Homo sapiens: one gene and its partners. The protein of the gene in region 1 interacts with the protein of each later gene in a biochemical or structural test. Each region holds a gene or a part of one and is shown in the gene's direction. Other genes may lie near its edges.

Region 1 (3,500 bases):
CGAGTGTGCACTCCAAGAGGGTCTCCAGCCAGACTGCAGGGCACCTCTCCCAGAGGGCCTGTTCCCATTATAGCTGCAGCCCCTGCACTGGAGGAGGAAGGAGGAGAGGCAGCCCAAATTTAGGCCACTCTGGATATAATAATTAGTGACACATTCATCAAATCAGGGCAGGACGGTTACCGAGACCCAGGACATGTTAGGAACATTGTCCCCAGAGGACAAAGGAGGCCTTTGAGCCAGGCGGAGGGAGCTATATTTGTTTGGGTCCAGCCTAGCTTTAGACAGTGAAAGGTCAGAGGTGGGACCCTTCAGAAGTCCCACTGGGAAGGGGATCAGAGGAGGACTCAAAACCAACAGTCTTCAGAGACTCTGAGCCCCTCCCCAAGCCAAAAATAGAAGTACTAACATTTACCAAGCACTTACTGTAGGCCACAGCGAAGTGCTTACACAGATTATCTCAGTTAATCCATGCACCACCCCATAAGGTAAGCATTTTTCTCAGAGGAAACTAAAGCTCAGAGAAGTGAAATAATTTGCCCATATGTCATGGCATAGAGGTGGGCAGCATCGGGATCAGAAACTGGGACTATCTAAGCGAGCCCACAGTCTTAGCGCCCCTCCATCCTGAGTCTCAGGGTGAAGGGACCAGCAGGAAGTGGAGGAATTCTGGAGGCTGAGCCAGTGCAAAGCAGCAGCCTCGATGCCCAGAGGCCAGGTGTGGGACCTTCCCAAGTCAGCTGCTGGCCCCATGTATAAGCCTCATCATCTTTCAGCCTAGAGCAGTTAAGATAGAGTCAGACTTTGCCTCGATTCTGGCTCTATCCCTTACCAGCTGCGTGATCTTGGCCAAGTCACTTAACCTCTCTGAGCTTCAGTTTTCTCATCTTTATATACGTGACAAATACTTATTAAGTGCCTGCTGTGTGGCCCCCCAACCTAGGTGCTGGTGATACAGTGGTGAACAGGACAGATAAGGAACTCACATTCCCCAGGGCTGACAGATGATAAACAAGCACATAGACAGATGGGAGAAAACACTGCAAATTGTGATGAGATCTATGAAGGTAACAACAGGAGCAAAGACACAGGATGCCTGAGGGCTTCCCCTCTAGATAGAGTAAACTTGGATGGCCTCCTCCATGGGGTGACATGAGACTGAGGGCTGGACAAAGTAAAGGGGCCACTTTGAAGCTTGGGGGAGAAAAAATTAGAGGAGGAAAACAGGAAGTGCAAAGGCCCTGAGGTGGAAACAAGATGGACTGTTTCAAGGGGCATAGGAAGGCCACTGTGGAAGATGTAGGTAATAATACCTACCCGAAAGGGTCGTTGATACAAGAGATGATGCACGCAGAACACTTAACCCAGCAGCTGACATATAGTAGGGGCACAATCAATGCTGCTGCTGCTGCTGCTGCTTTATTGTGGTGGTGAATGTACCACCCCGCTCTCACCTCAGCCCAGCCCCAGATCTTGAAGTGGGGAGGGAGGAGTGGCTGATGGAGAAAGGGCCTTTCTGTTGTAGCGGATGGAGGTCTTGCCATAGGATAGTCCCCTCTCTGGGGACTGAGACTCAGGAGCCTGAGGCGGGGCTGGAGATGAAAGCAGGGGCCCCGGAGGGCCGGGCTGTTCTTCCTGTGAGCCCAGGCCCCTAGAGGTGAGGCTCTGAATCTGCTGACTGTCTCTTGGCGCTTTCCTCCCCTTCCTCCCTCTTCTCTGGTCCTGACAAGCCTGAGAATCTGTTGCTGGCCTCCAAGCTCAAGGGTGCCGCAGTGAAGCTGGCAGACTTTGGCCTGGCCATAGAGGTGGAGGGGGAGCAGCAGGCATGGTTTGGTAAGTGGGGTGGGCTGGCAGAAGTGTTGGGGGTCAGCACCCATTTGTGTTGACACATAAGCCTCTGGGAACCCCCTGCCTGAGTGGGTATGGCTGGAGATGCTGTTGGGCCAGCCGGGGCTGGTAGAGCAGAGGCCCTGTCCCACCCAGCCTCTGAGCCAGTGGGCAGCACCTATCTGTGTCCCCAGGGTTCAGGCATGGGACCCTACGGCCTTCCACAGGGCTCCCTGGGGCCCCCTCTCTCCTTTCCTGTCACTCCCCTCCGCCATCTCTCCTCCCCAAAGGGCTCCCTGTGGTTGAAGGCCTTAGGGAAGTTTCCACAGAGCTGCCCTAATAGTCTAGGTGCTTGAGATTATTATCCTGATTTTATAGATGAGGAAAAAACTGGCAGAAAACTTGCAGAAGGTCAAGAAAGTTTAAAAGGGATAGACCAGGACTTAACTCAGATGATCCAGCCTGCTTTGTGATTTTGGTATAACTGGGTCTCTTTAAGCTACCTGGGAGTACTTTTTAGTGGGCAATATTGAGCCATGGTTAAGAACCAGAGTTCTGGGTTCAAATCCCGACTCTGCTACTTATGAGGTATGTGACTTTGGCTAAGTCACTTCACCTCTCTGTGCCTTCGTTCCTCATCTGTAAAATGGGAATAATAATTGTGTGTCCCTCAGGAGTGGTGTCAGAATTAAATGTGACCAGGCATATGAAGTGCTCAGCCCAATGCTTAGCATACACACTCGGTAACTTGTAAGTGTTCTTAAAAGTGCTTGTTAGAATACCTCAGGTGTCCATTATTTGAACTGACCGGCTCAACAACCCTGGGAGGCACTTAAGATAGGAATCCCTAATCCTTCATTTGACAGATGAGGAAACAAGGACTAGAAGATAAAGAGACGTACCCAAGGGGCAAAGTCAGTTAGGACAGGCCTCCCGACATCCCATGACCAACTCCAACAAGGGGGTGCAGAGTGGGCTTAGCTCTCAGCCTGGGGCTGACATGGCAGGTGCATTTCATCTTGAAGCCACCAGCAATGGATCACTAGTGGCTCCTGGAAGAGTGGTGCTGAGAAGCTTATGATCCTGAGTCAGGACCCAGTAGGAAGGAGTTCTGTGGCTGATTACCACTGGCTCTGAAGTGGGAAGTGGTGACAGGTGTGCTAGGTAGTTGTCGATCTGATCTAGAGGCTTTGCTGGCTCATCAGGCTTATGTCTTGGGCCGACTGGGGTTGCACAATACAAGCCCAAGTGCACCTGAGGGGCAGGGGCTGTTTTCCTCAGCTCCAGAGCAATCCTCATCCCCTCTTCCAGCAGGATCTTGCTCCAGGTTACTTACGAGACAACCTCTGTGTATGTGTCTGCCTGTCTGTGTGTCTGGGAGCAGGGTTTGCAGGGACTCCTGGATATCTCTCCCCAGAAGTGCTGCGGAAGGACCCGTACGGGAAGCCTGTGGACCTGTGGGCTTGTGGTGAGTTCATCCTAAGGCCCTTTTGTGCCCCTGGCTGCACCCCGGCCTCTGGGGCCCCCTCTCTCCTTTCCCATCACTCCCCTCCCCCCATGTCTCCTCCCCACAGGGGGTTGAAGGTTCTCTGGTCCTCTTTCCAGGGGTCATCCTGTACATCCTGCTGGTTGGGTACCCCCCGTTCTGGGATGAGGACCAGCACCGCCTGTACCAG
Region 2 (3,500 bases), on another chromosome or scaffold:
CACTACAAATGAAAATGACAGTATTTGTTGCCAGTGATAAAATTCAAGCTTTCACACAAAAATTAGAATTTTGGAAAACTTTTACTAGCTTTTGTGAGGTTGGAAGCTTTTTAAAAGACTTTTTTTGGTGAGATTTTCTTCAATACCTAAAGACTTTTAATGAATATGATTTTTTGATATTGCATGTTAAATGTGTGAACATTTAGAAGATGTAAATAACTCACTGAACTGGTATTCTCCAGATGACCAATGCATGAGTAAAACATCCATTTGAAGTGCAAGATAGAGCAATAGATTTTAATGTAACCAAGGAAGAAAAGAGGCATCATATCAATCATATTCCTTGATACGATTTCAGATTTCATGTTGCAACTACCCTTTAAGAGTTGTTGTTCTAGTGTAATATCAGAGAATGATATCCATAATTCTCCAAAAAGGCTATTAAAATACTCCTTTCTTTTCCAGTGTACATATTTGTGTGAGGCCAGAGTTTCTTTTTGTACTTCAGCCACAACTGTTTGAATGCATAAGCAGATAGAAGAATTCAGCTGTTTGGGGGGAAAAATATAGTTATTTTTCATTAAAACATGTTATTTATGTTAACAAGTAATGAGTTTGTTACTTTTAAAAAGAAGTAATATTTTAAAAACCTATTCTTTTTAATTTATGATGTGGTATATGTCAATAGATAAAATCCACATAAACCAAAGCTCTTTGGGATTCTCAGTAATTTTAAAAAGTGTGAAGGGATCCTGAGACCAAACCATTTGAGAACTACTGTTCTGCGGTATAACTATGAGAATAGTGGGTTGGAGGACAAGGTTATTGGAAATGACAAAGTTAAGGAACTGAGAGTTGCAGAAAAAGGAAGCCAGTTAAGTGTTAAAATCTTTAAGGAATGAACTACGTTATGGTAAGTCAAGGCATAGGAAGCCTTCAGAAATGAGTGGATCTGCAAGGTCACAGTGTATTGGAAAGTCACTGGCCTGGAAATCTCTTGATATACTTGTAATGGTAAAGTTGCTGTAATGAAAAAACCCAACAGTGATGTAGATTAAAGAGTAAAGGTTTTATTTCTTTCCATTTAACAATTCCAAGGCGAGTGATGCAGGTTGGTGATGAGGCTTTGCTCCACATGGTCACTCCAGGGATGAGATTTTTCTGTTGTATCATTTTGTCATGTTTTAGGGCATGTGGCCATCTGTCTGATATAGCTGAACAATTGTGCCCAGGAAGGAGAGGATAGATTTTGGTGGACAACTGGCAGTCTTTGCCGTGTTTGAAAACAAGGGCTGTCTCTTACATTTGTTGCATTTTGTGCAATATTAGATATGAGGTTGATGATTAATAAAAGCTAGTAAAATAAGAATATAATCTTTATTATTTTTAATGTAAATGAATTTATCTGGAAATGTCTAAGAAGAGGTTGCCTGTTTGCTGTTTAGGCTCAGAATGAAATTGGGGTGTTATATTAGTCTGTTTTCACACTGCTGATAAAGACATACCCAAGACTGGGAAGAAAAAGAGGTTTAATTGGACTTACAGTTCCACATGGCTAGGGAGGCCTGAGAATCATGGCGGGAGACAAAAGGCACTTCTTACATGGTGGTGGCAATAGAAAATGAGGAAGAAGCAAAAGTGGAAACTCCTGATAAACCCATCAGATCTCATGAGATTTTATTCATTATCACGAGAATGGCACGGGAGAGTCTGGCCCCCATGATTCAGTTACCTCCTTCTAAGTCCCTCCCACAACACGTGGGAATTCTGGGAGATACATTTCAAGTTGAGATTTGGGTGGGAACACAGCCAAAGCATATCAGGTGTTGTGGGATTAGTGTTTCAATCTAGGGATTTCCTTCATAATTCTTTTGTTTTAAAGTTGTGTTCAACTTCATACAGACGTAGTGATGTTGAAGGGAAGAATTAACATAAAATATGCCAAGAAACTAGTGAAATGTTATGTTTAGGATCAGTTTAGCAACTGATCTATTGGTTGTAATCTTTCAGTTCCATCCAGGAGGAGGAGGAAGAAATTTTCTTTTTGTATTGCACACTTAGTTTCTTTTGCTTCTTACTATATCTCTTTTTTCTCCGTGGGTGTTAGGCACCTTGCTGTGACAAGCTTTATACTTGCCGCTTGTGTCATGATAACAATGAAGATCATCAACTAGATCGCTTTAAAGTGAAGGAAGTGCAGTGCATAAACTGTGAAAAAATTCAACATGTAAGATTTTATGACATTTCTATTTTCTTTTTAAAAGCTGTATTAAGGTGGTTTGAAAAAATTTAATCAAAAGTATCATAAATAAGATTTCTTTAACTTCTAGAATAAGCAATATCTTTGGTTTAGGTGTTTCAAAACTTATAAAAATAAACTGCATATAGTTGAACATAAGTTCTAGATATTCAAATGGTAACTCAAAATGTTTAGTTTATTGCAGTTTTTAATTATGTTTCTTTTTTAGGCCCAACAGACTTGTGAAGAATGTAGCACATTGTTTGGAGAATATTATTGCGATATATGCCATTTGTTTGACAAAGATAAGAAGCAGTATCACTGTGAAAACTGTGGAATTTGTAGGTACTGTATGTAAAGTGTTCTTATCTAATTGCTTCTAATGTATATGCAATAATAGTTTTTAAAATCAACTTTATTAAGGTGTAATTTACATCTGATAAGATACATTCATTTTAAGTGTCCAATTAAGTGAGTTTTGATAAATACCGGTATCTCTTTTACTATCAGCACAATCAAGCTATAGAACATATCCATTCTAAAAAGTTTATTCATAATTTGTTAATAATTTAATTTACCCATCAATTATTGTATAACTATTTAGAATTTTACCTTTGGATTATAAAATATGTTTTATATAAAGTGTTTTATGGGCAACTGAGGTAGAGAATTGGGATAAATTTTTCCTTTGTAAAAATTAGTATTTAAAAAATTATCAAGAAATACAGGTGATTTTATAAAAATTGGAAAAAACAGAAAAGTAGAAATAATAAAAATAAAATAACCAGAGCCTAACCACAGACAAGCTACTGTTGACATGTCGGTGTATAAGGAATTATTTTCTTTCTTAAAAATCTCGAGTATTTTAGATGTATATTAAAGCATGTATGTAAAGTGTGTCTAAAGTACAGTACAGTGAATAAGCCACCGAGTTTAGGAAAGGAATGTTACCAATACTGTCAAAGCCCAAGGTGTTCCGTGTTCAGTCCTTTCTTCTTGTCCCTGCTGGAGGTAATCACTGTCTTGAATATTTTAAATCACTTTCTTGCTTTTTTTTTGTTTTTTTTGTTTTTTTAAAATATAGTTTGTTTTTAAGGAAGGATAACCAACCTACCAAAAGATAACAGAAATTATAAGCAAATGATTTTATGAATTTTAACAAATGAACATGCCTTTGTAACCACTACCCAGATCAAGAAACACAACATTCATAGCACCTTCATAGCTTCCTGTGTGCCCCCTCCAAATTAATACACTTCCC
Region 3 (3,500 bases), on another chromosome or scaffold:
GTCTCTAAATTGGGTTGACTTCACAATGGTTTGCTGTCCTGCCCCTTGGCCATGACTTCCATCCAGCATCTACTCTTAGAATCAGAGTGTATACTCTGAAACAGAAGCAGCTCTCCCCAAGCTGGCTGTCTTCTGCCAAGTCTGGAGGTTGCAGCTCTGAAAGAGGGTGGTACCAGGGGCCAACGCCTGGTGCAGCCTCAGGAGCAACAGGACCATAGGCTCCTGAGGAAATTGTCCAAGAGAGCCAGAGCACCAGTGTTCTCTGCAGTATGACTTGGGCATTTGTTTAGTCTGGATTTCCTGTGTAATCAGTGTTTTCCTCTGGGACTGTAATAGAACCAGTCTACTCTCCAAGAGGCCTTTAGCCAAAGCTCATAATGATAGGACTAGCTATTAATTGTCTACTACTTTCTGTCTACTATACTAAACATTTTACGTATGCCATCTAATTTAACAAGCCTATCTGCTAGGTACTATTAATCCCCTTTTGATAGATGAAGACTTTGAGATTTAGAGAGGTTAAGCCACTTGCCCTGGTCACGCAGTGACAGGATCTGAATCTGGGCTTCCTCTCTTCCTCTATCTATCTATCTCCCCCTCCCTCCCTCTCTTTACCCCCACGGTCCACCCTATTAAGCACACATTTGAAACATCAGCCAGGCCGGGCGCGGTGGCTCACGCCTGTAATCTCAACATTTTGGGAGGCCGGGGCAGGTGGATCACCTGCGATCAGGAGTTTGAGACCAGCCTGGCCAACACGGTGAAACCCCATCTCTACTAAAAATACAAAAATTAGCCAGCCATGGTGGTGTGTGCCTGTAATCCCAGCTACTAGGGGGGCTGAGGCAGGAGGATCGCTTGAACCTGGAAGGTGGAGGTTGCAGTGAGCCAAGATGGTGCCACTGCACTCCAGTCTGGGCAACAGAGGAAGACTCCGTCTCCAATTTGAAAAAAAAAAAGAAAGAAAAAGAAAAGAGAAACATAAGCTAGACTGAAACATAGGGGCAACACTTTCACTGTGCTTTTCAATCCAAAATAATTTTCCTAAGAGCCCACTATGTACCACACACTATTGAGCACTTGGGATTAAAAAAAAGTTCTCCAGAGGCTTTCCAGTCTAGTGCCATGTGTCTCAGTCTTGGTGCTACTGGTATTCGGGGCTTCAGAATTATTTGTTGGGGATTGGTGGGGTGGGGAGCTTTCCTGTGCTTCGTAGGAGGTTCAGCAACACCTCTGGCTTCTACCAAATAGATACCAGTAAGCACATGCACCCTCACAGCCAGATGGGACAATCAGCAATGTCTTCAGCCATTGCCAGGGGACAGAATCATCCTCGATTGAAAGCATCTGGTCTAAGGGGAAAGACCAGTGTGGAAGTCAGACAGGAAGTCACTGGCAGGCTAGTATCCTTTGGATGAACAGTTTACTTACTATAAGTTGTCCTGGTCAAGGCAGCTGGGCAGAAGGCACTGGTGGGGAAGGTGAAGGGGTTCTTAGTAATTCTGCTTCTTTAGTCTGTACCTGAAACACAGTCATTGATTTTACCCACTGAGTGGCCTTTAGGGGAAGTGTATCATTTCCCTCTCCTTCCTCTCTCCCTCTGGCATATGGCTCAGCATTTCCTCACCCGTTTCACATGAGCAGATTTGACACGTTGCTCTGTCCCCAGACTTGCATAACAGCAAAAAGCTTTATGCAGTCTGGATGGATTCACAAAATTAAGCCAGTGGGCAGCAGAGTAATAATCCGTCAGCTTAGGTGATATAAAAGGTCTTGATTAGCCCAGGATAATACATAGTACATGCTGAAGGCCCTCTTATTCCACGGTATTTATTTGCCATTGCAAGTATCTTCCTACTACTTCATTCTAGAATAGACAAGCAATGTTTAATGTATGAGTCTGCATTTCACAAGATCAGTGTAATAAACTTAACCACATTTTGTCTTTTTACAGATGAACACAGTATAGAGCATGAATTTTTTTCATCTTCTCTGGCGACAGTTTTCCTTCTCATCTGTGATTCCCTCCTGCTACTCTGTTCCTTCACATCCTGTGTTTCTAGGGAAATGAAAGAAAGGCCAGCAAATTCGCTGCAACCTGTTGATAGCAAGTGAATTTTTCTCTAACTCAGAAACATCAGTTACTCTGAAGGGCATCATGCATCTTACTGAAGGTAAAATTGAAAGGCATTCTCTGAAGAGTGGGTTTCACAAGTGAAAAACATCCAGATACACCCAAAGTATCAGGACGAGAATGAGGGTCCTTTGGGAAAGGAGAAGTTAAGCAACATCTAGCAAATGTTATGCATAAAGTCAGTGCCCAACTGTTATAGGTTGTTGGATAAATCAGTGGTTATTTAGGGAACTGCTTGACGTAGGAACGGTAAATTTCTGTGGGAGAATTCTTACATGTTTTCTTTGCTTTAAGTGTAACTGGCAGTTTTCCATTGGTTTACCTGTGAAATAGTTCAAAGCCAAGTTTATATACAATTATATCAGTCCTCTTTCAAAGGTAGCCATCATGGATCTGGTAGGGGGAAAATGTGTATTTTATTACATCTTTCACATTGGCTATTTAAAGACAAAGACAAATTCTGTTTCTTGAGAAGAGAATATTAGCTTTACTGTTTGTTATGGCTTAATGACACTAGCTAATATCAATAGAAGGATGTACATTTCCAAATTCACAAGTTGTGTTTGATATCCAAAGCTGAATACATTCTGCTTTCATCTTGGTCACATACAATTATTTTTACAGTTCTCCCAAGGGAGTTAGGCTATTCACAACCACTCATTCAAAAGTTGAAATTAACCATAGATGTAGATAAACTCAGAAATTTAATTCATGTTTCTTAAATGGGCTACTTTGTCCTTTTTGTTATTAGGGTGGTATTTAGTCTATTAGCCACAAAATTGGGAAAGGAGTAGAAAAAGCAGTAACTGACAACTTGAATAATACACCAGAGATAATATGAGAATCAGATCATTTCAAAACTCATTTCCTATGTAACTGCATTGAGAACTGCATATGTTTCGCTGATATATGTGTTTTTCACATTTGCGAATGGTTCCATTCTCTCTCCTGTACTTTTTCCAGACACTTTTTTGAGTGGATGATGTTTCGTGAAGTATACTGTATTTTTACCTTTTTCCTTCCTTATCACTGACACAAAAAGTAGATTAAGAGATGGGTTTGACAAGGTTCTTCCCTTTTACATACTGCTGTCTATGTGGCTGTATCTTGTTTTTCCACTACTGCTACCACAACTATATTATCATGCAAATGCTGTATTCTTCTTTGGTGGAGATAAAGATTTCTTGAGTTTTGTTTTAAAATTAAAGCTAAAGTATCTGTATTGCATTAAATATAATATGCACACAGTGCTTTCCGTGGCACTGCATACAATCTGAGGCCTCCTCTCTCAGTTTTTATATAGATGGCGAGAACCTAAGTTTCAGTTGATTTTACAATTGAAATGACTAAAAAACAAAGAAGACAA
Region 4 (3,500 bases), on another chromosome or scaffold:
TTTGGGAGGCTGAGGTGGGTGGATCATGAGGTCAGGAGTTGGAGACCAGCCTGGTCAAAATAGTGAAACCCTGTCTCTACTAAAACTACAAAAAATTAGCTGGGTATGGTGGCCAGCACCTGTAATCCCAGCTGCTCAGGAGGCTGAGGCAGGCGAATCGCTTGAACCTGGAAGGCGGAGGTTGCAGTGAGCCAAGATTGTGCCACTGCACTCCAGCCCGGGCGACAGTGTAAGACTCTGTCTCAAAAAAAAAACAAAAACAGAAACAAAAAAACAGCTTTATTGAGATGTAACTAACACATTATACTGCTTGTTCATAACAATCCACTTACAGTGTGCAATTAAGTGGCTTTTAGTCTATTTACAGGTACATGCAAGCATCGCCACAGTCAATTTTAGAACACATTTTCAGCACCTCAAAAAAAAAGAAAAACCCGCACCGTTTAACTATCATCCCCTACATCCCTGTCCCACCCCTAGCCAACTATGAATCTGTTTTTAATCTCTGTAAACCTCTCTGTTCTGGACACTTTTTGTAAATTGAATGATACAATATGTGGTCTTTTGTGAGTAGCTTCTTTCGTGTGATGTTTTCAGGTTTGTCCACGCAGTGGCTTGTGTCAGAGCCTTGTTCCTTGTTACGGCTGAATATGTGTTCTGTGCTGTGCCACATTTTCCTTATTCTTTCATTTGCTGATGAACATTGGGTTGTTTCTACCTTGTGGCTGTTATAAATGATGCTGTTGTATACATTTATGTCCACATTTTTGTGTGGGTCTGTTTTTGCTTCTCATGGGTGTGTACCTAAAAGTGGAATTAATGAGTGATTGGGTAACTCTGTGTTTAACTGTTTGAGGAAATGCCAGACTGTTTCCAAAGTGGCTAAAGCATTGTATATTCCCACCAGCAATGCATGAGGGTTCTGAATTCCCCATATCCTTGCCAACACTTGTGGTTTTCCATCTTTTTAGTTTTGGTATTTTTTAAACTACAGCCATCATCATGGGCATGAAGTGGTGTCTCGTGGTGGTTTTTATTTGCCTTTCCCTGATGATGAGTGGTGTTGAGCAGCGTTTCATGTGCTTAATAGCCATTTGTATATCTTCTTTGGAGGAGTGTCTATTCAGATCCTTTACCCATTTTTTATTTGGGTTTTTTTTTTTTTTTTTTTTGAGACGGAGTCTCGCTCTGTTGCCCAGGCTGGAGTGCAGTGGCGCGATCTCGGCTCACTGCAGGCTCCACCTCCCGGGTTCACGCCATTCTCCTGCCTCAGCCTCCCGAGTAGCTGGGACTATAGGCGCCCGCCACCACGCCCGGCTAATTATTTTTGTATTTTTAGTAGAGACGGGGGTTCACCATGTTAGCCAGGATGGTCTCCATCTCCTGACCTCGTGATCCGCCCGCCTCGGCCTCCCAAAGTGCTGGGATTACAGGCGTGAGCCACCGCGCCCGGCCTTTTTTATTTATTAGAATAGTTATTTACATATTCTAAATACAACTCCCTTATCAGACAGAGGATTAGGAAATAAGTATTTTTCCCATTCTGTGGATTTGTCTCTTTACGTTCTCGGCGTCCTCTGAGCACAGAAGTGTCCGATTTGATGCGGCCTGATTTATCTGTATTTTTTATTCTGTTGCTCATGATTTTGGTGTCACATCTAAGGCTCCATTCCCAGATTCGAGGTCACGAAGTTTTGCCCCCGTTTTCCTCTAAGTGTTTTATAGTTTTAGCTCCTTACACTTAGGTCTGGAATCCATCATGAGTTAATTTTTGTCTATGGAGTAAAGTAGGGTCACATTCATTCTTCTGCATGTGGACATCCAGTTTTCCCAGCACAGTCTGTTGGAGAGGCCATTCTTTCCCCACGGAATGGTTTCAACACTCTTGATAGGTGGGTTTATTTGGATCTTTTGTCTTTGCCCTCTAACCTCCCATGTTCTCATTCCTAGGGGTCAGTATTTGGATTATGAGAAGGAGGAAGTGGAAGCTCAGCCCAGGCAGTGGAAGAAATACGACTTTCACTACGACAATGTGCTCTGGGCTCTGCTGACGCTGTTCACAGTGTCCACGGGAGAAGGCTGGCCCATGTGAGTGCTCATCCTGCTCTCCGTAGCTGGGGCAGGCAGCCCCTGAGCTCGGCCTCCCTTCCTCCCTCTATCCCTGGGCTCAGGCATGGAAGCAGACCCACCCTTGTGGTGCAGGTCTTGAGTTCTTAGGGCTGTCTCCTTTGGGGGTTCCCCTGACACTTGCTCTCCTCTTTGCCCAGGGTGCTGAAACACTCCGTGGATGCCACCTATGAGGAGCAGGGTCCAAGCCCTGGGTACCGCATGGAGCTGTCCATCTTCTACGTGGTCTACTTTGTGGTCTTTCCCTTCTTCTTCGTCAACATCTTTGTGGCTTTGATCATCATCACCTTCCAGGAGCAGGGGGACAAGGTGATGTCTGAATGCAGCCTGGAGAAGAACGAGGTAGGTGGACGCTCTGTGGAGTCTTGCAGTGGACAGCGTGGGCAGCGCCATCAGGCTTCCCTCCTGCACACAAATCACTCACAGCTGGGTCAGCTTTGGCTGCCACCGTCTGCCAACACAGGGGCAGGTCCTCCTTTCTCCTGCAGAGGGACCGGATTTGGCTGGTTGAGGCCTGCTTGGAGAAGGTCTGGGCTGCTTCAATTTGTCTTCTGTTGTCAGGGCTCCCTGTGAGGCCTGGCGAGACAGGGCTGGGTGCAGTAGATGCCGTCGGGTAGGTTTTCTGCTTCTGAGTCTCTGTGCTCCTTTCTCCCCTTACAGAGGGCTTGCATTGACTTCGCCATCAGCGCCAAACCCCTGACACGGTACATGCCCCAAAACCGGCAGTCGTTCCAGTATAAGACGTGGACATTTGTGGTCTCCCCGCCCTTTGAATACTTCATCATGGCCATGATAGCCCTCAACACTGTGGTGCTGATGATGAAGGTGTGTGGGGCTCAGCGCAGAGGGGCAGCTGGCGCTGCTAGGGATTGGGATCTAACCCTGAGGCTGAGTGGAGAGTCAGCCTTCTTCCTCCCTGCATGAGCCAAAGCAGTAGTGGCCTTGCATCCTGGCCAGCATGGGATGCCTGTGGAATCCTGTTTCCCTTTGTTGTCTGTGGGCTGGGACAGTGGGGAGGTTCTGGGAGGACTCGGGGAGAGCAGGAAGGGGTGTCCCAGGCCTAGGCAGGCATCGAGTTCTGTCTGCCCGCTTTGCTTGGTCATAGTGGTCCCAGATGGGGTGTCTTGGGGCTGCCAAACCCATGGCCAACAGTGCCTATTCCCCGGGCAGTTCTATGATGCACCCTATGAGTACGAGCTGATGCTGAAATGCCTGAACATCGTGTTCACATCCATGTTCTCCATGGAATGCGTGCTGAAGATCATCGCCTTTGGGGTGCTGGTACGTGCTTTGGTCCCTGCTTTGCCTTTTGACAACCTATATTCTGGTTCCCCATCTGTAGGGCGACCTTTGGGGGCTCACAATTTGGAGCT
Region 5 (3,500 bases), on another chromosome or scaffold:
CACGAGGTTAGGAGATTGAGACCATCCTGGCTAACACAGTGAAGCCCGTCTCTACTAAAAATACAAAAAAATTAGCTGGGTGTGGTTATGGGCTCCTGTAGTCCCAGCTACTCGGGAGGCTGAGGCAGGAGAATGTCATGAACCCGAGACCGCACCACTGCACTCCAGCCTGGGTGACAGAGCGAGACTCCATCTCAAAAAGTAAATAAATACAAATAAAAATTGAATGTACATGTGCCTTAACATCTAGAAGATGTACAACAAAAATATTAAAAGTGATTAGCTATGGGTGATAGGAATATAAAGGGTTTTTATTTTATTTTTTATATCTGTATTTTATAAATTTATAATGAGAGGAGCCATTATATAAAATTATTAGTGTAGAAAAGGGATTATTCATTGAGTTAGCTAGGTATATTTTCCCTAGAGAAGACTCAGGAAAGAGAACATAGTAATTGCTTCAAATATTACAAGAGCATTTATATGGAATTGAGATGAGATACTCTGAATAAGGTTATGGTTCTCAAACTTCAGTGTACGGGAAAGTATGATTGGGTTCCTGTTAGAGTTGACTTTACAGAGTATCCTGTGTGACTCTAATGAAGCTATTCCATGGACCACATTTTGAGAATCAAATAAAACTAAGCAAGATTTATAGTGGCCAGAGAGAAAGTGATTAATAAGTAAGGACTTTATTACTATCCAGAGATGGAAGCTTCTGGTTTTACCCTATATGCCAAAGACACTGTCTTTATAGGGATCTTCCCCCCAGGCTTCACAGTCACATATTTCGCTGCCTGCTAAAATAAACATCTCTACAAATTCAGATGTCAGAGTAGTTTCATCATCTTCCATTACAACCCCAGTCACCCAAAAGCCTATCCTTACTTCTTGCATTCTCTTTTTCAATTAAGGACAGTCTGCCAATTCTCTTTCAGACATGAAACATTGGGTCATCTGCAGTTCCTCTCTCACCTCTTTTAACTATTCATAAAGCCCTTTCTGGACTGCTTCCAAATTTTCATAAAATCACTTCCCTCGTTCCCATCTCTACTACTACTAACTGCCCTCTTTTTGGCCTTCATCATCTTTCCTTAACTACTTCATGGGCTTTCTTCGTTGGTCTCCCCACCACCAGTTTTCCCCCTGAAATATATATCTTTCACACTGCCACTAAAGTGATTTTTTTTTTTTTTTTTTGAGATGGAGTTTTGTTCTTATTGCCCAGGCTGGAGTGCAATGGCGCGATCTCGGCTCACTGCAACCTCTGCCCCCTGGGTTTAAGCAGTTCTGCTTCAGCCTCCCAAGTAGCTGGGATTACAGGCACCTGCCACCATACCTGGCTAATTTTTTGTATTTTTAGTAGAGATGGGGTTTCACCATGTTGGCCAGGCTGGTCTCGAACTCTAGACCTCAGATGATCCACCCGCCTCGGCCTCCCAAAGTGCTGGGATTACAGGCGTGAGCCACATTGCCCGGCCTAAAGTGATCTATCTAAAAGCAAACATCACCATGGTATTCAGGAGTTCAAAAGCCCTTCAGTGGCTTCTGCAATACCCTCAGGATAAAATGCAGTTTCTCTGAGGTGACATAATACAGGCTTTTTGTGACTAGCACATCTAGCCCCACCTGCCTCTGTTGTTTTCTCTCTCCCTACTTCATACATCATACAGTAACACACTTATGTGCACCATTGGTGCTGAGCTGCTGGTTATCCCACTCTGCCATGTGTGCTGTTTCTCTTTGCTTTTGCCACTACTCCACTCTGTGCTTGAAATTCTGTGACTCTTCCCTGTAAGTAATAATAACAAGTCTAACTTTTTTCTTTTGTTTTAAATTCACATTCTTCCCTGATAGCCTCCCCTTCTCTTAGGTTGGGTAGAGTAATTCTCAGTGTGTCCATTTTTCTTTTAGCAAACCTCATTACTAAACTGAATTGTATTGTGTCTCTTTTCCCCATTCCTTCGCATACATACCCCCAATAATTTATTTGAGGTCAGAGACCCCTATCTTTCTCACTTTTGTAGTTTCAGTTCTAACATTATTCCTGGAACATAGGTCCCCAATAACTGTTTCCTGATTTAGCAAATAAAATTCCTATCCTTGAATGTGTTCAAGCATAGGAGCAATAAATAACATCTGATAGACATGTATGATTTAAGGACCCTTTTAACCTGGGTATTGACTCATTAAAACTGCCTTAGTTCTAGACTTAGTAGGTCAGGTTTGCTTATGCTTGAGAGCAGTTAGATTTTAGAACGTGACTTATTTAACATGATATTCTTTAGAATTTTATGTTTCTTCAAGGATAGTATATCTGTTGACCTTGGGTGAACACTTAATCTCATTGAGCAGTTATTTGTGTTTTTAAAAATGGAGATCCTTATCACCCAGTCTTCAGTTTCTTCAAATAGCAAAATCAGAAATTGGAAATGAAAGCAGGTGGGAAAATGTAAAGTGCCATACAAATAAAGTGATATCTCATGTTCAGAGAGTCTGTATTACATATTTGGTATAACATGGGAATAGTTTTTAATTTTTTGTCACTTGGGAAGAGCTGAAAAGGATAGGGGTATAGTTTTTGGTGTTTTTTATAGTGTTTTTTCTTAAAGAATATTAAATTTAGTCATTACTTTCATATCAGTGAAATACATATCTAGCAAAAAGGTCACGTTTTTGCTTCTAAAAAGTTATTTCATATTGAACATGAGTACTGCCAAAGAGTGTCTGGGATGATAATTCTTTTCTGTGTTCAACACCATAGGTATCTATGCCAGCAGCTCATGCAACATCATCTGCTCCCACCGTAACTCTAGTACAGCTGCCCAATGGGCAGACAGTTCAAGTCCATGGAGTCATTCAGGCGGCCCAGCCATCAGTTATTCAGTCTCCACAAGTCCAAACAGTTCAGGTATGTGTATAAAAAGTTCTGCATCTATTTTAATAACTTTTGTTTATAGCCATATCTCTCTCCTTTCACTAGTTATGAAAATAAGGACACATCTAGTTCAGTTTATTTTATTCACAGTATAGGAATATGCTGCATCTGTATAGTCACCTTATGTATAGGAACATATATACAGAAGAACAAACATAAAAGAAAATGACTAATTTCTTAAGCTGCAGAGGAAAAAGAATTGATTGGGGAAAATAATGAAGTACATGAGATAAAGTGGAAGTGTTTGGGAGAAACTGTAGGACTGAAGTACCTCAGTCGAGGAAAATTGAGATGCAAAAATAGTAACTAATTTTCTAAATCTGCAATTGGAGAAAAATATACCCTTGATCAAAAATTAATAACCTTACCTAAGATATTATTTGACCTTAGAGATTACATAAAGCATTTGTAAAATCAGCTGTGCTTAGGGTTTTCAGTTACAGTGTGTAACTTTGAAATAATATATTCAGAGGTTACATCTTAAGGGTCAGGAATTATACTATGCATGTTATCTAATTCTTTGGAGAGATCTTTCCTTTGGGTTTGATCCACAGGTAATAAA
Region 6 (3,500 bases), on another chromosome or scaffold:
TCACCTCAGCCCCAGGAAGTGACAAAGGCCTCTGAGCTCAAGGCAGCCTCAGAGTAGAAAAGGGATTCTCTGAAGCAGGCGTAACTGCTTTATTGAGGCTGGGCACAGTGGCTCACGCCTGTAATCCCGGCACTTTGGGAGGCAGAGGCCGGCGGATCACTTCAGGTTAGGAATTCGAGACCAGCCTGGCCAACATGGTGAAACCTCGTCTCTACTAAAAATACAAAAATTGGCCAGGCGCGGTGGCTCATGCCTGTAATCCCAGCACTTTGGGAGGCTGAGGTGGGTGGATCACTTGAGGTCAGGAGTTTGAGACCAGCCTGGCCAACATGGTGAAACCCTGCCTCTACTAAAAATTAAAAAAAAAAATTAGCCAGGTATGGTGGCACGCGCCTATAGTCCCAGCTACTTGGGAGGCTGAGGCATGAGAATCACTTGAGCCCAGGAGATGGAAGTTGCAGTGAGCTGAGACTGTGCCACTGCACTCCAGCCTGGGTGACAGAGCAAGATTTTGCCTCTAAATAAATAAATAGCCAGGCGCAGTGACTCACGCCTGTAATCCTAGCACTTTGGGAGGCCAAGGCAGGCAGATTGCCTGAGCTCAGGAGTTCAAGACCAGCCTGGGAAAGAAACATGGCAAAACCCCGTCTCTACTAAAAACACAAAAAATTAGCCAGGCGTGGTGCTGTACGCCTGTAATCTTAGCTACTTGGGAGGCTGAGGCAGGAGAATCACTTGAACCCGGGAGGCGGAGGTTGCACTGAGCCGAGATTGTGCCACTGCAGCCCAGCCTGAATGACAGAGCAAGACTCTGTCTCTAAATAAATAAATAAATAAATAAATAAACATCTTTATTGAGATACAATTGACAGGTAGTAAGTGGTGCATATTTGAAGTCCACAATTTGGCAAGTTTTGGCTTATACACATATACACCTGTGGATTCCTCACCACAGTAACGGAAGTATTCATCACCCCCGGAAGCTTCATCCTGCCCCGTGTCATCCTCTGCCCTTCCCTACCTCCTCTCAACTCTCATGGGCCCTCTCTCCCTGCAGCGGCTGCAGAGCGGCACCACAGGTGTGTGTGCGCTCATTGCAGGAGCGACCCTGCACGTCGCCTGGCTCGGGGATTCCCAGGTCATTTTGGTACAGCAGGGACAGGTGGTGAAGCTGATGGAGCCACACAGACCAGAACGGCAGGTAAGGGGATCCCTGCGCCCAGGCCCAGGATATTCCTGGCCTCCATCATGCTGGGCCCATAGGGGAACCCCACCCAGCCTGGGAACTTCAGGTAGTAGTAATCCTGGCACCTTTCAAGAGGGAGGGCTCCCTGCCTGATTTGAGTGGCCGGGGGTCCCACGTGAGCCCTTCCTGAGAGCTCTGTGGGTCACAGCTATATGGAGCCCAGAGCTCCGGGGGAGAGCAGAGCCCTCTGCACTGACAGGCATCCCAGTGCAGTCAGTGCAGCCCAGTGCAGACCAGAGCCCATCATACACACGGACAAGGAGGCCACAGGCTGTGGGTGAGGAAGGCCTCAGGGAGGTGATGCTGCCCCGAGGCTGGAGGGAACCTGGCTTGGGGCTGTACTGACTAGAGGCTGCCTGGGACCCTGGCACTCAGGTCATCACCTGGACATGAGGATGACAGTCCCACTCAGACCTCTTCTCAGAAGACTGTCTCATCCATGTGTCTCCTGAGGTTGGATTGCGAGCATTCAGATATCATGGAATGACTGTTTATCCCTCAAACCCCACTTTTCCCACGTGCTGTTCTCCACCAGCTATGTTTGATTAACCATGCACATGGTGGATAATTCTACGTCAGCACATAGGAGCACCCATCCTTTCTTGGGGCTGCGGACATTGCATTCATCATGCAGTCCCTTGTGGGTGAGCATGAAGATCTTTTCAGTCTTTCGGTGCTAAAAACAATGCATCTCTACCTACTTTGTGCAGCATTAATTGCTCAGAGTCAAGTGTACCTATATCTGTAGGACACATCCCCAGAAGTGGGATGGCTAGGTTGGAACTGATGCACGTACAGTCTGGGTAGATTTGCCAAGCTTCCCACCTCAGGCCATGCCAGCCTGGGCTGGCACTACATTCCCAAGAAGGTCCATTTCCCCACAGTCTCACCAGGCTGCAGGATTCTTCCTGTCAGGTAAGAAGCCTGTCTTGGGGCAATTGTTAAGTTTGCTTTTCTGTTACAGAGTGAGTTTGAGCGTGTTTTCAAAAGCTGAAGATCATTTACACAGCCTTTCCTGCAAACACTGTTTTTTTCCTTTGCCTGTTTTTCTTATCAGTTTATAGGTTCCTTGTATATGTGAAGGAGGTTGGTTCCTTGTCTGTGATGATTTGCAAATGTTTTTCCATGCATCTTTTATTTTTGTTTATGGGCTTTTGCCACATGGAGGCTTTGTGTTTTTCTGTAGTTGAGTAGTCTTTTTGTGGCTTCTGGTTTGGAAAGCACATAGAGACACCAGGACTTGATGATTGTAACAGTCAGGGGCAGCTACATTCCTTGGCCTTTCACTGCGGCTCACGGTCTGGTATGGGCCCCCTGTACGTCCTCTCCCCATTGTACAGAGGAGAAAACTGAGGCTCAGTCACTTGCCCAGAGCACACCGCCAAAGTCACAGATAGTCTCTGCCACTCCCCTGCCTCCACCACCGTGGGGGAATTTGGCACCTGCTCCCTAGTGGGCTCTCCTCCCCAGGATATGCAGTCAGATGAAATGTGGCCAAGTCAGGATTCGTGCTGGGCCCACTCCCACCTGCTGCCTGCACACCTACAGGCTCAGCATTCAGCACCCCATTAAAGCCCAGTGGGGGCTCTGTTCAAACACTGCCTGAGTCCTGCAGTATGGCGTCGTGGCAGAGCATGGACAGATGGCCTTGCCTGGTCCCGGCTCCACCGCTTCCAAGTCCATCACACAGGGGTCCCTGGAGGTTTGGGGTAAGGATTGAGTGTCCCAGTGCATGTGGAGCACAGAGATCAGAGCTTGCACAAGAGAAGCACACACAGGTGTCTGTGTTCTTGGCTGCAGCCCGCATGGGCCAAGGAGTTCAGATCCAGTGCCCCCCACCTCCCCTTTCCTGCCGCCATGCTCTGTAGGCTTGGCCCCTCCTGCTGTGATCCTGATCACAGCCTTCCACCCTAGAGAATTAATCACAGATCCAGGCCAAGGTTCTCCCACAAAAACAAGCATCATGTCGGTTACAAGAGCAAGAAACTGGCCTCAACTTGGCGAGCTTCAACGGGGGTCCAGCAGCGGCCCAGAGCAGCTTCCAGGAGTACGTGGGGGGAGTGCGTGGTGCTCTGCCTTGTTCTGCGGCTGTCTGAACAGTCTCCTGCCTCTGCACTCAGTTCAGCCTCCAAACACTGAGTGCCCACTCTGCACAAGATACTTTGTTGAGGCAGTGAGATAACACAGGACCCACTTCCTGCCTCTAAGTCTAATGGGGGAGCAGGAGGAGGGCAAGGACCTGGCAGGATGAGGC
Region 7 (3,500 bases), on another chromosome or scaffold:
TGAACACCAGCCTGAGCCCTCCCGCTCTTTCCTCTTCCATGGATTTATCTTTCCCCTCGAACACAAAGCCTGCTAGTTATCCCACGGCGGGGGCATGAGCGGCATGCCAAGGAGGAAGCCCAGGCTACAGCGACTTAGGGAAGAAAACCCAGGGCAGGCCCGTGAGTGCGGAGGCTAGCCGGTGGCCCGAGCCCAACGTGCATTAGGACCTCTCCAGGGAAGTGACAGGTCCACCTGGAGGGCTCTTTCACCTGGTACTCGAATTTACAGCTGCCCTCATTTCCTTTCAGAGGAGTTGCTGTGTGGAAGGGAAATTTAGGAGAGGATAACAAGCGCTTGTGCTTATTTAGACACAATCTTGATGCTGCCTTAGCTGGACTGTTAACATCGAGTAACCAAGATAGGGTCTCCAATACTTTACTTTTTCAATAAGAAATTGATACAGACCAGTGAGAAGGCAGCTTCTCCTTTTCACCTTCTTCTCCATTCGCTACATGGGATTTTATTGTTCAGAGTTTCTCAGGACAAAGCTAGAGCTAATTTGTGTCTCTAATCCTGGGCACTGGCCATTTGAAGCAGCCAAAGGTGCATTGACCAGGACTACGTGCAGCCCTTCCTCCAGTGGGACATAAGCAGGGGTTTTCTGTGGAAGTCTTAGTTGCATGACATTCTACTGTCAGCTGTGGAGTGTTCAGGTATGCTACCTCTTGTTAGGTGTGCTTTATGCTGTTTTCTTTATGGAGTGCAGGGAGTTTCCTCCTTTAATTTCTCAGTTACCTCAATGTAATTACACATGTAAGAATCAATTGTGGCTATTTCTGTCCTTTATGCATGTTTATTTCCATTTAAACATGCCATTGGTTTAGGACTTGAAAATACTGCGTCCTGAACTCATTGGGTTAGTAGTGTGCGTCCCGTCAAATTTCCAGCCTTCTCCCTGTGAAATCTTGTCAGCACTCTGGACAGATCTTTCAAGTTTCTTAGGAGAAAAATGTACATAGCACTTCCTAAATAACAGCTTCTCTTAAGAGAAAAAGCTTTCTCTAGTCATTTACACTCCACATGACAAAATATACAATCTAGATATTTTAATTGCACCCCTAGAGGTTTGTGCTATCACACGGGAATGTTTTGGCTGCGGGCTACACACTCACAAAAAGCCCAAACTCTTCAATGTTCACTTATGAAAGGATGTGTCGAGATGATTTGGGAGAGGGAGTTGGTATCTGAATAATCCAAGTTTTTCACTTTTCTTCCATAGGTAGACACAGGCCTTTACTATCACTTTATAGTATACCTTATGGACATGATGACAAACACCCAGGGGGAAATTGAAAAATTCACTCATATCTATTATAACCAACCAGCAAAAACTATCCAGACTTTGGGAATACTTGATTAACTACATACCATTTTTAATTTTGGCTCTGATTATTAACATTGTTGTGTTTCATGTTAAAATGACTTACCTCATCAAAGGTGCTCACTTTTGTGACTAAAGCATTTTAATAATTCTACTTTTCTTATTTCTTTCCAAAACCCATTTAATATTTTATAGGAGTCTTACTATATTGTCTTTTACAGAATGATCATTTTGGTTAGAGAAACTAAATTAAGTGTCAATAAAATGTAGGTGGTACTACAAGTAGAAAATGTGAGATGAGGTTGATCATTAAAAATATTGTATTTATTTGTATACCAATTTTATCCCAGGTTTTCTATCCTCATGGGATGAAGACAGAGCTATATACAAATGTTTTATCTTACACATTCTTATTGTATTATGTATACGTACATGTGAGGTACTTTTATGTGTATCTCGATATAGATAGATAGATCATGTATAAACCAACTTTATAAAATATTAGATACTACTTTTTATATATGTTGATATACATATATGTTATATGATAAAGCTGATTTGGCTGGTTTAGAGGTTGGATATATTGAAGATGTATTATTACAAAGCAGGAAGATTCTGCACTTTAGAAATATGTGTTATGTGTTATATTCATATTCAGAGAAATATTAATTCTAGTCATTTTAGTCAGTGAGTGAAGCTTAGGAGAACATAAGAAGACATGAGCATCAAAAGAAATATTTTTAGTGCATGATGTATTTATATAACCCAAGAAAAGAAACTTCAATTTTTAGTTTTGAATTTTCAATTATTTGTAAATGAGATAGTATCTTGATATTCCTTTATCTTAGTTGTTTAAAATGTGTTTCTAAAAAACATTAAGGCATAGGTTTGCTTTCATTTCCTTTAAATTCATAGGAGATGAAAATCTATATTTTACCTTTCTGAATCATCTTTTAACTATATATAACTTTTGTCAGAAGGGCCATCAGGCAAAAGTCTTGGTGCAGACTCATCCCTGCTCTAATAACTACTATTTATTAAGCACGTCAGGCATCATGCTAAGCAGTAGGTATGTTATTTTATTTAATTATCATATCAACAATACAAGGCATTATTTGTTTTTCCTTTTCAGTTATAAAAACTACGTTTTTTATTCTACTGTCAAAGAACAGTGCATAGTTTATGCAGTGTTCACTGTGGGTCACTTTATTTTTATTTGTGCAATTAATTCATTATACTTATTCAATAACATGTACTGCCATAACCCATCCCCCATTTTCAAAATAAGGAAACATATATTTCATTCATATATATGTGTGTGTGTGTGTGTGTGTATATATATATATATATATACCATTTACCATATATGTAAAAGGCAAAAATAATGGAAATATATATACATACATACGCAAAAGAGAGAGATTTGATTTGTTTGGCACTAAAATTTACCGTGTTTCCTTTGTTTTGAGCTGCTTTACTCTGTGGTGTGGCTAAACAATAAACATTATGGGATTATTTTACTGTGGTTTCCAGTGAGTTGTAGTATGTTGGAAGTACAGGCTCTGGCTTCAAATTGCCTGGGTTTGAATCTCAGCTTTGTGGCTTACTACTTGTGTGACCTTAGGCAAGTTACTTAAATTTATGTACCTTAGTTTCACTATTTTCAAATTGGGGGATGGGTTATAGCAGTACATGGCATGGAGTGAATATGATGAATAAATTGCACAAGTTAGAAAAAAAGCAATAGGTGCAGAAGGAAAACCACCATGGCACACATAGACATATGTAACAAACCTGCACATTCTGCACATGTATCCCATTTTTTTTAGAAGACATAAAGAGAAAAATAAATTAAAAAAATAAAGTATCTGACCCATAGTGAACAGAGTGCAAACTATCAATCCTACCCAGGCCTTTGGATGTCGAGTTTTCTGCGTTTCCTATGTTATTACATTTAATGTTCAACTGCCCTATGGATTGTGTCTTATCTTTATTTTATGACTTTAATGATAAAACATAATACTAACATAGATTAAATAACTTGTCCAATGTCCCACAGTACAAACAAAGGTGACAAAGCCGGTATTTAAATCTAGGATCATCTGATTTCCAAACTTTTATGATACTGACCTACAGC

Evidence for each region.
Region 2: of the proteins of CAMK2A (region 1) and RCHY1, one has a biochemical effect on the other in vitro, tested with the Homo sapiens proteins (one study listed by BioGRID and IntAct).
Region 3: the proteins of CAMK2A (region 1) and STAT1 form a complex in vitro, tested with the Homo sapiens proteins (one study listed by BioGRID).
Region 4: the proteins of CAMK2A (region 1) and CACNA1B form a complex in vitro, tested with the Homo sapiens proteins (one study listed by BioGRID).
Region 5: of the proteins of CAMK2A (region 1) and CREB1, one has a biochemical effect on the other in vitro, tested with the Homo sapiens proteins (one study listed by BioGRID).
Region 6: of the proteins of CAMK2A (region 1) and PPM1F, one has a biochemical effect on the other in vitro, tested with the Homo sapiens proteins (one study listed by BioGRID and IntAct).
Region 7: the proteins of CAMK2A (region 1) and GRM5 form a complex in vitro, tested with the Homo sapiens proteins (one study listed by BioGRID).

Annotation. Positions count from the first base shown.
Region 1 is NC_000005.10:150,251,774-150,255,273, reverse strand, and holds part of CAMK2A (calcium/calmodulin-dependent protein kinase type II subunit alpha), read left to right. Parts: intron 1-1,727; coding exon 1,728-1,830; intron 1,831-3,208; coding exon 3,209-3,292; intron 3,293-3,429; coding exon 3,430-3,500. UniProt on the Homo sapiens protein: Calcium/calmodulin-dependent protein kinase that functions autonomously after Ca(2+)/calmodulin-binding and autophosphorylation, and is involved in various processes, such as synaptic plasticity, neurotransmitter release and long-term potentiation.
Region 2 is NC_000004.12:75,507,904-75,511,403, reverse strand, and holds part of RCHY1 (RING finger and CHY zinc finger domain-containing protein 1), read left to right. Parts: intron 1-2,107; coding exon 2,108-2,227; intron 2,228-2,468; coding exon 2,469-2,584; intron 2,585-3,500. UniProt on the Homo sapiens protein: E3 ubiquitin-protein ligase that mediates ubiquitination of target proteins, including p53/TP53, TP73, HDAC1 and CDKN1B. Mediates ubiquitination and degradation of p53/TP53; preferentially acts on tetrameric p53/TP53.
Region 3 is NC_000002.12:190,969,172-190,972,671, reverse strand, and holds part of STAT1 (signal transducer and activator of transcription 1-alpha/beta), read left to right. Parts: intron 1-1,954; coding exon 1,955-1,969; 3' UTR 1,970-3,500. UniProt on the Homo sapiens protein: Signal transducer and transcription activator that mediates cellular responses to interferons (IFNs), cytokine KITLG/SCF and other cytokines and other growth factors.
Region 4 is NC_000009.12:138,055,782-138,059,281, forward strand, and holds part of CACNA1B (voltage-dependent N-type calcium channel subunit alpha-1B), read left to right. Parts: intron 1-1,950; coding exon 1,951-2,088; intron 2,089-2,267; coding exon 2,268-2,469; intron 2,470-2,787; coding exon 2,788-2,952; intron 2,953-3,297; coding exon 3,298-3,408; intron 3,409-3,500. UniProt on the Homo sapiens protein: Voltage-sensitive calcium channels (VSCC) mediate the entry of calcium ions into excitable cells and are also involved in a variety of calcium-dependent processes, including muscle contraction, hormone or neurotransmitter release, gene expression, cell motility, cell division and cell death.
Region 5 is NC_000002.12:207,557,462-207,560,961, forward strand, and holds part of CREB1 (cyclic AMP-responsive element-binding protein 1), read left to right. Parts: intron 1-1,660; exon of another isoform or gene 1,661-1,794; intron 1,795-2,764; coding exon 2,765-2,911; intron 2,912-3,500.
Region 6 is NC_000022.11:21,928,849-21,932,348, reverse strand, and holds part of PPM1F (protein phosphatase 1F), read left to right. Parts: intron 1-1,057; coding exon 1,058-1,201; intron 1,202-3,500. UniProt on the Homo sapiens protein: Dephosphorylates and concomitantly deactivates CaM-kinase II activated upon autophosphorylation, and CaM-kinases IV and I activated upon phosphorylation by CaM-kinase kinase. Promotes apoptosis.
Region 7 is NC_000011.10:89,059,483-89,062,982, reverse strand, and holds part of GRM5 (metabotropic glutamate receptor 5 isoform a precursor), read left to right. Parts: intron 1-3,500. UniProt on the Homo sapiens protein: G-protein coupled receptor for glutamate. Ligand binding causes a conformation change that triggers signaling via guanine nucleotide-binding proteins (G proteins) and modulates the activity of down-stream effectors.